Homo sapiens: one gene and its partners. The protein of the gene in region 3 interacts with the protein of the main gene of each other region in a pairwise test. Each region holds a gene or a part of one and is shown on either strand. Other genes may lie near its edges.

Region 1 (7,047 bases), on a different chromosome or scaffold from region 3:
TAAACTTCTCACATGCCATACCAGAAACTGGAAGTCTCCCTTTCCTTTTTGCCCCACATCTTGACAAGCTGATAAGAAAGCCCAAGTGCTACCTTGGTTGACACCAGCAGGAAGTTTCAACCATGCAAGCTCAGGCCTACATGAGGGAGCTCTTGCTCTAGCCCCACCTTCTAAAACCACAAGCCAGTCAGTCAGCCTTCAGGTTCTCAAGTCATTTTGGGACATGCTTGGGATCTTGCCTTGCTCTCCCTGGAAAGCCTTATTATATGTGTAATAAACCTTTTGGTATCCTCTTAGTACCTCTTGGTACTTTGGCATTTCAATATCTGATTCAAATTTTGGGTGGGGGAGTTTATTGTCTCTGGAGGGTAACCACAACATCTTGCAAGTAGAAAATCCAAATGAATTAAGAAAACCATTGGAAGGCCAGGTGTGGTGGCTTATGCCTGTAATCCCAGCGATTTGGGAGGCTGAGGCAGGCAGATCTCTTGAGGTTGGGAGTTTGAGACCAGCCTGGCCAACATGGTGAAACCTCGCCTCCACTAAAAATACGAAAATTAGCTGGGCATGGTGGTGCACATCTGTAATCCCGGCTACTTGGGAGGCTGAGGCAGGAAAATGGCGTGAACCTGGGAGGCAGAGCTTGCAGTGAGCTGAGATCGCGCCACTGCACTCCAGCCTGGGCTACAGAGTGAGACTCCATCTCAAAAAAAAAAGTTAAGTATAATTTACTGTGCAACTCAGCAATTCCATGTCTTAGAATCTGCCCAAGATAAATGAAAACATGTCCACGCAAAGACTTATATATAAATTTTTATAGTGGTGTTATTCTCGACAGCCTCAAACTGAACCCATAAATTCATCAACTAGTGAATGGATAAATAAAATATGATATGTCCATTCACTTGAATATTTTCATCAGTAAAAAACTGATACATGCTGCGACATGAATAAAACTCAAAAACATTAAGTGAAAAAAGCTAGACACAAAAGACTTCATATTGTATAATTCTATTCATATGAAATGTCCAGAATAAGCAGATCTGTAGAGTTAGAAAGTACATTAGTGGATTGAGGTGAGATTGGGAACCAGGAGTAACCACAAATGGGCGTGGGGGATCTTTTTGTAATGATGGAATCATTTAAAAATTGGATTTTGGTGATGATTATATAGCAATGCAACTAAATTTTTTTTTTTTTTTTTGAGACGGAATCTTGCTCTGTCGCTCAGGCTGGAGTGCAGTGGTGCGATCTCGGCTCGCTGCAACCTCCACCTTCCGGGTTCAAGGGATTCTCCTGCCTCAGCCTCCTGAGTAGCTGGGACTACAGGCATATGCCACCATACCCGGCTAATTTTTGTATTTTTAGCAGAGACAGGGTTTCACCATGTTAGCCAGGATGGTCTCAATCTCCTGACCTCGTGATCCGCCCGCCTCGGCCTCCCAAAGTGCTGGGATTTCAGGCATGAACCACCGTGCCGGGCCACTAGATTTTTTTACTAAAAATTATTGAATTGTACATTTAGGTGAATTTTGTGTTATGTAAATTATACCTCAATAAAACTGTTAAAAATATATTAACACAGAAGGGGAAAAAGGCAGTGCTTTTAGATAGGAGGAAGCAAAATTTTCTGTATTTGTAGGTAATATTTTAAAAGATGACTTGAAAAATTATTGCTATCAGTAAAGTGTAAATATATAAATAGCCTTTTTATATTTCAGCAGTTACTTGAAAAGTAAAAAATTTTCTTAATAATAGTACTAAGAATGTAATATAATAAGGAATAAATTTAATAAATGTACAACTTCTCTGAAGAAAATTACAAATCATAAATAATAAAAATGGGGAAACAGTTGATAGTTAACCCAGTATTTTTCTACTTCATTTATAAATTGAAAGCAATTCAAATCAAAATTACAGGCTTTTTTAAAAAAACTTGATACAATGTCTAAATCATATCTAAAATGCTGATTATTAAGAGCATAGCAAAGACATTTCAGCAAAAAATAATGAGGGGTTCTTGCAACTGTAAAATTAAAATCTGTATAAAGTTACAATAAAGAGGACAATAAAGAGGTATTGGTAGATCTGTGGAATGGAATTGCAAGGTCAGGAACAAAACCAAGCACCCACAAATAAGTAAAGGTGATACTTCACATTCGTGGTTTAAGAATAGACCATTCTTGGGCTGGAACAGTTATTAACTATTTGGAAAGAAATTATAACTATATTCAGTACAACAAAATTAGTTAACATTTATTATGGTGCTTATGTAAAAAAATCCATAAAAGATTGGGGAAAATATAGAAGTAAATGTGTCTCTGATTTCTGAGTAGGAAGATATATAAATGTGTACATATACAAGTTGACCTTTGGACAACACTGAAAACAGCTTTGAACACAATAGCAATGCTGACATCTGCCCTGTGCAGTTGAAAAATCCACATATAACTTTTGACTCCCCCAAAACTTAACTACTAATGGCCTGCTGTTATCCAGAGGCCTTACCAATAACATAAACAGTTGCTTCACACATAAATAGATTGGTGTCTACATATATTTTATGCACTTAAAGACATACATTTTTCTTAATTTTTTTTGATATTTCTAGGCTAGACAGTTTATCTGCGAGTTTTTTCAAATTATTGCACATTTCCAAAACATTTTTCAATATATTTATTGAAAAAAATTCATGTGGCCTGGCATGGTGGCTCATGCCTGTAATCCCAGCACTTTGGGAAGCTGAGGCGGGTGGATCACTTGAGATCAGGAGTTCGAGACCAGCCTGGCCAACATGGTGAAACCCTGTCTCTACTAAAAAATAAAAAAAATAGTTGTGGTGGCATGCACCTGTAGTCCCAGCTACTTGGGAGACTGAGGTGGGGGAGAATAGCTTGAACCCGGGAGGCAGAGGTTGCAGTGAGCCAAGATCATGCCATTGCACTGCAGCCTGGGCAGCAGAGTGAGACTCCATCTTAAAAAAAAAAAGAAAAAAGAAAAAAAAATTTGTGCGTAAGTAAATCTGCACAGTTCAAACTCATGTTTATCAACTGTATGTATTTTTAAGCATAAGAACTAAGAAACTAGGAAACAGGAAACACAGTTTTGGCCACATAAAATTTTTAAACCTATCTATGTCATAAATACTATGGAAGACATTAAATGTAAACAATGCCAAAATAATAGTATGTGCAGGTAATGGATAAAAGCCCTAATATATCAAAAAGAAAGGATAGCTCAGTTGAAGACTGGACAAAGGACATGAATTTGTAATTCACAGACGTACCACAAATAACTTGTAAACCTAGGGAAAAACAACTTTTTTCTACTAATCAGAGAAATGCAACTTAAAAATTACATACCACTTCTGGCCTATCAAATTGGAAAAAATAAACTAAGAGAATGCAGAAGACTAGATTACTTGCATACTTTTATTTGGAAAATAAGTTTATGCATCCTTTTTGAATAGCAGTTTAGTAATTTAAGTCAAAAGCCTTAAAAATGTTTATACTTATACCTTTTGGCCCAGAAATTTCATTTCTGTGAGTTTGTCCTAAGGAAACAATCAAATGTATAAAAAGATTATTTGTGGAGGGATTATCATCATACCTTTATTTAAAATATCTATAAATAGAAAATCTAAGTGTTAGACAAAAATTTGTGGTACCTCCATGCAATGGAACTAGGTGGGAGAAAACTCAGTGATACAGAATTTAATAATATGTTCTGTGAAAATAAAAAATTTAGTATGTACACCATGGCCCCAGTTTTTGTGTTTTTGTTTTATTTTGTTTTTTTAGACAGAGTCTTGCTCTTTTGTCCAGGCAAGAGTGCAGTGACGCGATCTCGGCTCACTGCAACCTCTGCCGCCTGGGTTCAAGTGATTCTCCTGCCTCAGCCTCCTGAGTAGCTAGGATTACAGGTGTGTGCCGCCATGCCCGGCTAATTTTTGTATTTTTAGTAGAGACGGGGTTTCAGCATCTTGGCCAGGCTGGTCTTGAATTCCTGACTTTCGTGATCCACCCGTCTCGGCCTCCTAAAGTGCTGGGATTACAGGTGTGAGCCACCGTGCCCGGCCCCAGTTGTTGTTTTTGTTTTTTGTTTTATTTTGTTTGGAGGATCAGAAAAAAAGACTAACTTATTACTGACTCTGGGTAATGGGATTAAAGGTGATTTTGATTCTTGTTAATTTTGAAAATTTTAAAAATGAATATATAGTACTTAAAAATATAAACCTCAACTGTTATTTATTTTGTTTTTTGAGACAGTCTCATTCTTCCGCTGAGGCTAGAGTGCAGGAGTGTGATATCTGCTCACTGCAGCCTCCGCCTCTGGGGTTCAAACAATTCTTGTGCCTCCGCCTCCTGAGTAGCTGGGATTACAGGCGTGCACCACAATACCCAGCTAATTTTTGTATCTTTAGTAGAGGCAGGGTTTTGCCATGTTGTCCAGGCTGACTTAGAACTCCTGACCTCAAGTGATCCGCCTGCCTTGGCCTCCCAAAGTGTTGGGATTACAGGTGTGAGCCATTGCACCTGGCTTCAAATGTTATTATTTAAAAAGTGTTACCACCTTAGATGGCATTAGTTGCATTGTGCATAGTGAAAGGAAAATGAATGAGCATGATTGATGCACAGTCCCAGCAGAAAGGAAAGAAGTCTTTCTGTGCACTGGTCACCAGGTAGCATTGTAGGCCAAATGCTGCTTGCTTGTCACCCTGCCTGAGTGGTGCCATGTAGCAGTACAGAGAGAGTGAGTCTAGGGGAAGGCATAAACTGGAGGGGCTAGTGAAGGTTTTTTGCTTTTTTATTTTCCTTGAAGAAAGAAGAAAGAAAGAGAAGGGGAAAAACATTTTCAGATTTTTAAGGAGAGATGGGCAAAAATGAAGCAGAATGAATGGATCCATAGAACATATTGAAGATTTACTTTTGTAGAAGGGATGTGTCTTCCTTTGAATCTGCAGAGTGGATGGGAAGCTACCTGTGTTGGCATTTTAGATTCAGGAAGTATAGGCTGTAGTAGTATATTAACATTGGATTCAGAAAGCTCACTTAGGGATTTCCTTTTTGTAGAAGGAAAGTTTTAAAATAGGATTCTAGTTTTAAAGATGATTTAATATTGCCTTTCTTGTTTTTAAATAGCTGTCACGGGAAGTCTTTTTAGGATAAACGTAGGCCTGCGTGGCCTGGTGGCTGGTGGCATAATTGGAGCCTTGCTGGGGTAAGCATTAACATGGTTTGGTTCTAAATTGGCACAATTTTCATTAATACCTTGCCTATTAAAAAGTCTCATTTATTTTCAAAGAACAAATTTAATCCTTAGAATCTATAAAAGATCTCTAGTCTTGCATTGGCAGTAGCTTTGACTGTCCATTCTAATTCTACCCCAATAGTTTATCTTATTTACAGTTTTTATTTATAGTTTCTTTTACTTAGTAGTTATTACAATAAATAACATTGACTCAATACAACTATCTAAGATAGGGCCCTTATTCAAAATGCCTTTTTACCAGCTAAAACTGTTTAAATATTGCTAACACCTGAAACTATAGTTCGAACACAGGTATTTATGGGAGCAGGGAAAAAAGAACAAAAAACAGTTAACAAGCATATTCTGTAAAAATTGTTAGGATTTTGTTTGTTTTGCTTAATACATTTTTAAAAAATGTTCTTCCTCAATTTTTTACTTTGAACAATTTCAAACCTACAGAAAAGTTGAATGAATTAGTACATTGAAACCCCATATACCCTTCACCTAGATTCACCAGTTGTTAACGCCTTGGTGATATTTTCCATATCTATGTATATGTGTGGGATGTGAATATATTTCTTTTTCTTTCCGTTTGCTTCTTGGCTAAACTGTTTGAGACCTCATGATACTTCACCCCCATATATATCAGCATGTATCTCCCAGGATGAAGAATACTCTTCCATGAAATCATAATACAATTATCACAGTAAACATTGTTTCAACACAACTATCTAAGTTAGGGTCTATATTAAAAACTCCTCAGTTATCATACTAATGCCCACATGTTTCTCCATTTTGTTTGATCATCCCATCATGATTAGATTAATGTATTTTTGTCAGGAATACAACATAGGTGAAGTTGTATCCTCATGTATCACATCAGGAGATATTCTGTCACCCATTATAAGTAATATTAACTTTAATTACTTGATATATTGGTTTTCTGCTGTGCAACAAATTACCACAAACTGAGCATGTATTGCATGTGAAACAACACCCTTGTAGTTCTGTAGATTATAAATCTGGCTGGGTTTCCCTGCTCAAGATTTTACAAGGCCAAAGTCAAGGTCTTGGCCGGGCTAGGCTCTTACCTGGAGGCTCTGGGGAAGAATCTGTTTCCAAGCTCATTCAGGTTGTTGACAGAATTTAGTTCCTTGTGGCCAGGCACAGTGGCTCACACCTGTAAAACCAGCAGTTTGGGAGGCCGAGGCAGGTAGATCACTTGTGATCAGGAGTTTGAGACCAGCCTGGCCAACATGGTGAAATGCTGTCTCTACTAAAAATACAAAAATTAGCCAGGTGTGGTGGCAAGCGCCTGTAATCACAGATACTCGGGAGGCTGAGGCAGGAGGATTGCTTGAACCCCATATACCCTTCACCTAGGCAGAGGCAGAGGTTGCAGTGAGCCAAGATCGCACCATTGCACTCCAGCCTGGGCAACAGAGTAAGACTCCATCTCAAAAAAAAAAAAAAAAAGAGGAAAAACTAAAAAAGAATTTACTTCCTTGTGCCTTGAGGTCTGAGGTCCCTGTTTTCCTTGCAGGCTGTCAGCCAGACTATTCTCTGTTCCTGGAGGCCACCCACATTTCTTCTCCTAGGGCCCCTTTGTGTTTAAACCAGCTACAGCACATTAACCCCTTCTCATACTTCAAATCTTTAACTTCTACTCTGCCACCAGCCAGGGAAAACTCTGCTTTTGAGTGTTCACTCAGATAGCCATCTCCTTTTTCATTATCTCAGATTCAACTAATTAGTAACCTTAATTACATTTCTGAAATCAATTTTGCCATGTAAGAT
Region 2 (3,404 bases), on a different chromosome or scaffold from region 3:
CCCCCCGCTAACAGTGGGAAGGAAACACAAATGCTGGTGGCTTCTGGGGTGTTGAGAGGGTCCCGGTGTTCTTGGGGCCCATTTTGTACAAGCGATAACTATTGAAGAAAAGAGAAGAATACAGTTCTTAACCCTTTCCTTATGCCTCACAAATTCAGCTTGATTTAAAAGCCTACTAGGACCATAATTTTAAAACAAAAAGCTTATTAGGAATATGGTGTCTGGAATTTGCTCCACAATTGCAGGAGTAGTTGCAGTTGGGGGGAGGGGGAGCAGGATTTCAGAGGTTGGTGGTTCTTGGTTATGGGTGGTGGACACATGGCATTTCATGATATTATGCTGTCTGCTCTGTGATGGTTCAAAATTCTCCGTAATAATAAAGTTTAAAAAGAAAGGCCTATTAGATTTTTACTTAGCAAGATCTCAGGGTTTTGAAATCGCAGCAGGCAGGCGTGGAGAAAGCAGGCGGAGAGGGATTCCTGTTCTGTGAGTGTTTGTTTTTCTCCTTTTATCTGTCATTTTCAAAACGCTGCTGTGTTTCCTCTGATAATTTATCCTATTTACTTATTAGCTTTTAATTTTTAAAAAGGTAACACATACAGCATAGAGAAGGATAAGAAAACTCTAGCCCAGGACTGCCATAGAAACGCAACAGCAGCCACGTATGTAACTTTAAATTTTCCAGTAGGCACATGTTAAAAAGTAAAAAGAAACATAAGAAATTAATTTTAGTAAGATGTTTATTTAACCCATTATGTAAAATATTATAATTTCAATGTAAAACTAATATTAAAAACTATTGAGATATTTTACATTCCTTTTTCTTAGATTAAGTCTTTGAAACATCGTGTGGATTTTGGCCAGGCGCGGTGGCTCATGCCGGTAATCCCAGCACTTTGGGAGGCCAAGGCGGGCAGATCACTTGAGGTCAGGAGTTCGAGACCAGCCTGACCAACATGTTGAAACCCTGTCTCTACTAAAAATACAAAAAGAAAATTAGCTGGGCGTGGTGGTGCATGCCTGTAGTCCCAGCTACTGGGGAGGCTGAGGCAGGAGAATCATTTGAACCTGGGAGGTGGAGGTTGTGATGAGCCAAGATCACGCCACTGCACTCCAGCCTGGGTGACAGAGTGAGACTGCATCTCAAAAAAAAAAAGAAAAGAAACATTGTGTGGGTTTGACACTTACATCTCCTGACATCTCCATTTGCATTAGCCACGTTTTTCTATGCACAGCAGCCTCGCATGTCTAGGGGCTGCCATATTGGTCAGCACAGCTCTGGAGAGTACAAAAGGGACACAAAAAAGATCACTCTCTGTTCTGACCTCCAGCTGACCCCTACCTGCCAGCCCTCTGGTCCACTTCCCAGAGGCAACCTCTGTAACCAGTGTCTTAAAAAATATCTTGTGATCCTCCAAGCTTTTGTAACTTAAGCAAATGAAATACCATTTATCTCCCTGTTTCTTACCTAAATGGAAACATTTCACAGGCGTTCCTTTATACTTTCCCTTTTCACTTAATGTGTTCTATTCAATGGCTGTTCTGATGATGCCTTGCTATGTTTTGTGGGAGAACCTCGCCAGGTACACCTTCTACCCTCAGCGTCAGGCCCAGATACCCATATTCAGAAATACATCTGACTCTGGGGACAGTGATTCCTTAAGGGACGTGGGCCTCTTCTTAGGTGTCACCTCCTTAAAGCTACAGCCAGTATCCCTGGCCTGAGGGACTGGTATGTGTGAGGGCTTACGGCAGAGCCCGGGACACCCTTGCCCTTTTGAGATCCTGCAAAGTGCCGGTCTGGCCAGCAGATGTCCTGGAGGCCGCACCTCATAGGTGGAAGGTTCTGGTGCATTTGGCTGCTGCCCCAACACAGACCTCACAGTGCCTGCCCACGATCCCTGGGTTGATTTTGTGGCTGGTGGTTTCCCTGAGCAGCGTCCATCTGCTTCAGAGAGCTGAGGAGGTGGCTGGGTGAGCAAGCCTCTTCTGCCCTTCTCCCTGGTGACGCTCATGTTCAAGGACTCCCAGACAAACCCCCCCTCACTCTCTGGAGCTGATGGGACCTGGGGAGGAGCCTTTCCTTGTCAGCTCCTTGGCTGGTCTCCACATGCTTTGATTCCAGCTCAGAGGAACTCACTTGAGAATGCTGGTTTTTATCAGCACCCCAGCCAGCAGAGTGAGGTCTTTGGATCTTGAGCTGCAGTCTCTGAGTTGGGCCTCCTTCCTCTTTTGTTTCAGTCACTTCTTCACGAACGATCCTGGATGCAAATGAAGAATTTAAGTCCATGTCGGGCACCATCCAGCTGGGCCGGAAGCTTATCACAAAATACAATCGCCGGGAGCTGACGGACAAGCTTCTCATCTTCCTTGCGCTAGCCCTGTTTCTTGCTACGGTCCTCTATATTGTGAAAAAGCGGCTCTTTCCATTTTTGTGAGATCCCAAAGGTGCCAGTTCTGGCCCTTTCAGCTCCTGTTTCAGGATCTGTCCTGGTTCCTGAGCTCTAGGCTGCTAAGCTGAGCCACACACCCCTCCGTTTGCACCAGTTGCCTGCAGGTTGGATGGAACACAGTGCCCCACTTTTCTGCAAGTAGCTGGCTTGTAAAGGGTGAACAGAGCCATGGGAGGAAGGTCTGGCATTGGGATGCCGCCCTGGGGACATACGAACCGCCTCCTTCCACCATTGTGCACTATGGGAGGCCGCTGCTGCGTGGAGCACTTAAAGTCCAGCCTCCAGGACCGGATGCCCCTCCTGTCTCCCGCTCCCATCGTGCCCTTAAATGCCAGATCTGGTGGAGGGAAGAGAGAAGAGGTAGGAAGAAAGGTGATGAAAACTCCTGGTCATTCCTTGAATAAACTTGATTTTATTTAATAGAATAAAATGTATTTGATTTTGTAAGATAGCCCTCTGGGAATGTGTGTTCCTCTTTTCTTTTTTCTTTTTTTTTGAGATGGAGACTTGCTCTATCATCCAGGCAGGAGTGCAATGGCGCAATCTTGGCTCACTGCAGCCTCTGCCTCCTGGGTTCAAAAGATTCTCTTGCCTCAGCCTCCCAAGTAGCTAGGATTACAGGCACACACCACCATACCCAGCTAATTTTTGTATTTTTTTAGTAGAGATGGGGTTTCTCCATGTTGGCCAGGCTGCTGTCGAACACCTGACCTCAGGTGATCCACCCATCTTGGCCTCCCAAAGTGCTGGGATTACAGGTGTGAGCCACCATGCCCAGCCCTCTTTTCTTGATGTCCAGATTTTTAGGACATGAACCTAGATTATTTATTTATTCATTCATTCAACAACGAATTAGCATTGTTATTTTCTTTCTGTCCCCACCCAACAACAAGGAACTATTAAACAGCTGCCACACACAGGGTGTTATAGACGCTGCTGAACATGACAAAT
Region 3 (4,345 bases):
GATCAGACCACCTGGTTCAAATCCCATCACAGAAATTGTCTTGCTGTGAAATCTAAATCAAATGTCTGGACTTTTTGTTCCTGTAGTATGGTGATGGTAATAATCAGGATTATTGTGAGGATTGTATAAGTACTAGCACATAGTAAGCACTCATGTTGTTTGCTATTATTGTTACTCCCACTTCTCCCCTCTGGTGGCATGTAACCTGCACGGACCTTGGAGGACTGAACAAAGGGGGCAAACGTGGGAATAAAAGACAAAGACAAGAGAGTATATTTGGAAGAAGGGGTCAGGGGGCACCTTGCCTCTAGTGGACAAGGGCCCTGAGCTTTACACAGCCCTCTGTATTTATTAGGCAAAAGAGATAGTGAGAAGCAGGGGTGATTGTCGGGTAATTGTCAGTCCATTTGGCAGTTTGGTTCACAGCAGGCTTGCGAGACTGCATCATTTGAACAGTAGGCGCTAGATTTCCCAGTAGATAAGTTCAAGGAGCCCTGCACCAGGGAGTGATGGCCCCCAGCAAACCCTTTGGTGGCAGGCTCAGTGTGAGTTTACTCACATCCTGCATTCATGATAAACAGTTTGCTGTTTGGTCATATAGCCTCCAGTGGAATGCTGAGTTGGTCACGATCCCTTTGGCCTTTCTTGCTCCCAACAGTGGCAGTCTGCACATAGTGCCCTAGCATTCTTCTTTGTATATCAGAGTATATGTAGAACTACATGGAAGAAAGACTAGTCAGAAAGGATAATGGAGAAGGCATCTGTGTCCCCTGTTACCTGTAGTAACAGCGTATAGTCTGTCTCTCTCCCTATCTCATCTCCTAGTAGAAAAAGAAAACTGTTTCATTTGCAGTCATCTGAATTAGTTTAGCATCAAAGCCTACGTCTTTTGTGATCTAAATAAAATTATTTTTATTACTCTGTTTCTCTAAATCTGCATTATAAAAAGCTAATTTTCCTTTTTATTTTAGGGTGGAATTGCGTTTGTTGCCATAAAAGGAGCATTTAAAGTTTACTTCAAACAGCAGCAATATTTACGACAGGCACACCGCAAAATTCTGAATTATCCAGAACAAGAAGAAGCATAAAACTGACTTCTGGTTGTTCTGCAGTTCTCTCATCCTTATGAATCTGTTGTGTTGTTTTGATTCCATCATTAATGCACTTGTGGAGACTTGTGATAAGCTGCTGCTCCTATATTTTTTAAGAAATATAATAAAGCACTTAGGGCAGGGGAAATCATCTCGGTAATCATGGAACCTAAGGATGTGATTTGTTTTCATTGTTTGTATGTACTACTTTTATGGCAGTCATATGAACCATTATCTTAGCATGGTAAACCTGGGTTTTGTTCATATTTTCTCCAGACAGAAATGCAAAGATCAAACTGTGCAAATATTAAAAAAATGCACATGCTGTTTTATTCAAATGCCTCTTTTGTACATGTTCATGTTTAGTGTTTTCTCAGAATCAGCAACTCAAGGTACTATGAGGATTTTTCTCACTGACATAATTTGATTACATACTAAATAAGAGGATATGTTAATATGAGGAAATGTAAATTAAATTAGTTATAAATAAATAACCAAAAATGTATGTAAACATTCAAATGATTATCTGAACAAATGAGATTTTGTGGTGTTTTCTTTAACCCATGTGATGTCCTCCAAAATGTGTAGGGTAAAAATTCACAGGGCTTCCAGATCACTTTTTCAATATTAAATTTTATTTACATAATGTTGACATCTCATACTTCATGAAGTAATTTTGACTCATGCAGTCGTGTGTGTGTGTGTGTGTGTGTGTGTGTGTGTGTGTGTATTTGTGTGTTTCAGTGTTTCATCAGGTCCTTCCATCTCTGGGAGTTTTTTCAACCCATATTTCTAGAAATTACAGCTGCCAGTTTATAGTAGTTTGAGCAGAGGATGATTTGCAAAAATAAAAATAAAGTTATTTTACTCTCCTCTTGCATTGATTCAGTTATTGAGATATTCGTTGATCACCTCCTATTTCCCAGGCACTGTGCAGAGTGCTGTAGGACATAGTGGTGAACAAGACAGACTTGGTCCAAGCTCTTACAGAGTTGACAGTCTAGTTTCAGCACATAGAAAACCAGCAGTGAATAAACCAAGGTGAGGCCTTGAGCTCTTTGTTTTTATATTAATGAGGAGAAAAGTATGAAAACAAGAAGTCTTAAGTAAATATTGAGGTCATTGTTTTTGGCTTAAGTTTATTATAGAAAATCAACACTAATGTTTTTAGATTTTAATTGTCCTATTGATGAGGCTAGCACCTTAATCACTGTTTAGTTTTGTATTCATTTTTAAAAGCAATTATTGAAGCCATTTTCAATAGATTGGCCATTTTAATGTTCAGCAACCTGAATGGTTATTTTTGTTAATTAAAATTAAATTTTTAAGAGATATTTTCAAAACCCTATTTATTTTCTTGTTCACAGTAATGCATGTCAATAATAAATGTTTCCCCTTACTGATAAGCGGCCACTTTAGGAGTGTAGCAAATATAGATTGAGCTATGTTAGTTTGCAATAATATATGTTAACTTTAGTAATTAAAGACTGGTTTCTATAGTATGAATGTCTTAATTTTGAGTTATATGATGTTTATTTGAATGACTGTTGAACATTCAAATTTGTATTATTTGGAGATGAAGATTTGACTAACAGTGAGCCTTATTAAGAACACTACTACAGTTCTGAAGGGGAAATATAACATCTATGGTTATATATTTTAAAAACTTAGATTATAGGCTGTAATTATAAAATATATTGGCTTTTGTTTTCAATGTGAAAGATACATTAAATGGACACATATCTTGCAAAATTTTGTTGTATAGAACAGTTTTTAGGCAGCCTTTACTAAAGTTATGCAAACACACAGTTCCCCATTTACTACATTAATGCCCTTGACAGGGAGTAGCTGCTTGGTTTTATAGGTATTAGGGCTCATGAAGGCCGGGGAACAACTCTAATCCTTTTGGGGCAGGAGGGAGGGTTTTTTTAGGGTTGCGGGGAGGGAACTGCAAGTGCCTGAGGACCAGAGTGGCCTCTAGCCCCGAATTGAACACTTTTAAACCTAAAGAGCCTTATTATTATTAGCTCGAGAAATACCACATGCCAGTCTTCCCAGGAAGGTGACCTGCCTGACCATGAAGCAACAAAAGAGCATAGGCAGACTTAAAGTTGGATAGACCTGGGTTCAAATCATAGTTCAGCTTTCAATAACTGTATGTATGATTTTGGCTAAAGGATTTGACTTTCTCTCAACTGCAGTTTTCTTAATCTTTGAAATGCAAATAATGTTTATCTCAGAAGACTATTTCTAGGATTAACTGAGAGATTAAAGGAACAGCAGCACTTAGGCTCAAAATCGCCCCTACAAAGCAGTAGTTGTTTCTTAATTGCTAAGTAATCTGTTTGCACTCTAGGAAAAGTAAATGGAGAGGTAAAAGAAAGGCATTGGGGACAAATGAAAGAGATGATGTAGATTTTTCGGATGGGTGGGTATATTTTATTTTCCAGTTTATTTTCATATTTCTTTACTGTGTTATTTCTGGAAACTTTAATGTTTTAAACCTCTTTTATAAAATTCAATGACGACTACTAGAATTCTTTTCAAAAGTTAACTTATCTCCAAAGTGGCTGAAAATATTGTTTACCATTACATGATTATGAAATGACTGTGAAGAATATAAAATTAAACTTAGTGACTTAATTAGTCACTGCCTTGCTAACTTTGCTGTAATTTTTTTAAACGTCTTGTTTTTAATATAGCAAACTATCTCAATACTGGCTGGATTAGGTTAAATAAAGAATTTTTATGTTCTCTAGGTGTACTTTGTTAAATCTCAAAACATTCTGTACATACATAATTTTTTTTAATCACAGTTATCGAGATACTAGTTTTTGTAAGTAAAAGTAATCTGAATTTAAAAAAAAAACTGTATGGAAGAATTTGTCCTAATTTTGTAAACAGGCTAGCCTATATTCTAAGTATGTTCTAATGACTAAACTACATCCCCACTCACCCACCCTCAAAGCCTCTTGCACTGAGTATAATTAAGCAACTAGACAAGATCTGTGGGTGGTCTCATGCCATGATGTCTTAAAGTGTATTCGAGTGAGTTGGGAACACAAACTGCTTCTGAGATATTAAGAACTTAAATTTCTGAAGTAGAAGATTAGAATCCTCTAGAATGAGTTAAAGGTCTTTTCCTTGCATCCATTTGGGGATTATATTGGTTTTAAGTCATTTCATTACCCCATCTGAGAGACAGATGCTAAGAGGAGAAAGGGCATAGAATTGAACAGTCCTGGATGCATATG

The links.
Region 1: the proteins of MARCHF5 (region 3) and TIMMDC1 interact in binary tests that used the Homo sapiens proteins (3 or more experiments, as listed by UniProt).
Region 2: the proteins of MARCHF5 (region 3) and BNIP1 interact in binary tests that used the Homo sapiens proteins (3 or more experiments, as listed by UniProt).

Annotation. Positions count from the first base shown.
Region 1 is NC_000003.12:119,508,500-119,515,546, forward strand, and holds part of TIMMDC1 (complex I assembly factor TIMMDC1, mitochondrial isoform 1 precursor), read left to right. Parts: intron 1-5,141; coding exon 5,142-5,220; intron 5,221-7,047.
Region 2 is NC_000005.10:173,161,484-173,164,887, forward strand, and holds the end of BNIP1 (vesicle transport protein SEC20), read left to right. Parts: intron 1-589; coding exon of another isoform or gene 590-662; intron 663-828; coding exon of another isoform or gene 829-841; exon of another isoform or gene 842-877; intron 878-2,241; coding exon 2,242-2,438; 3' UTR 2,439-2,904; downstream 2,905-3,404. UniProt on the Homo sapiens protein: As part of a SNARE complex may be involved in endoplasmic reticulum membranes fusion and be required for the maintenance of endoplasmic reticulum organization. Also plays a role in apoptosis.
Region 3 is NC_000010.11:92,350,120-92,354,464, forward strand, and holds the end of MARCHF5 (E3 ubiquitin-protein ligase MARCHF5), read left to right. Parts: intron 1-971; coding exon 972-1,088; 3' UTR 1,089-3,845; downstream 3,846-4,345. UniProt on the Homo sapiens protein: Mitochondrial E3 ubiquitin-protein ligase that plays a crucial role in the control of mitochondrial morphology by acting as a positive regulator of mitochondrial fission and as an important regulator of immune response.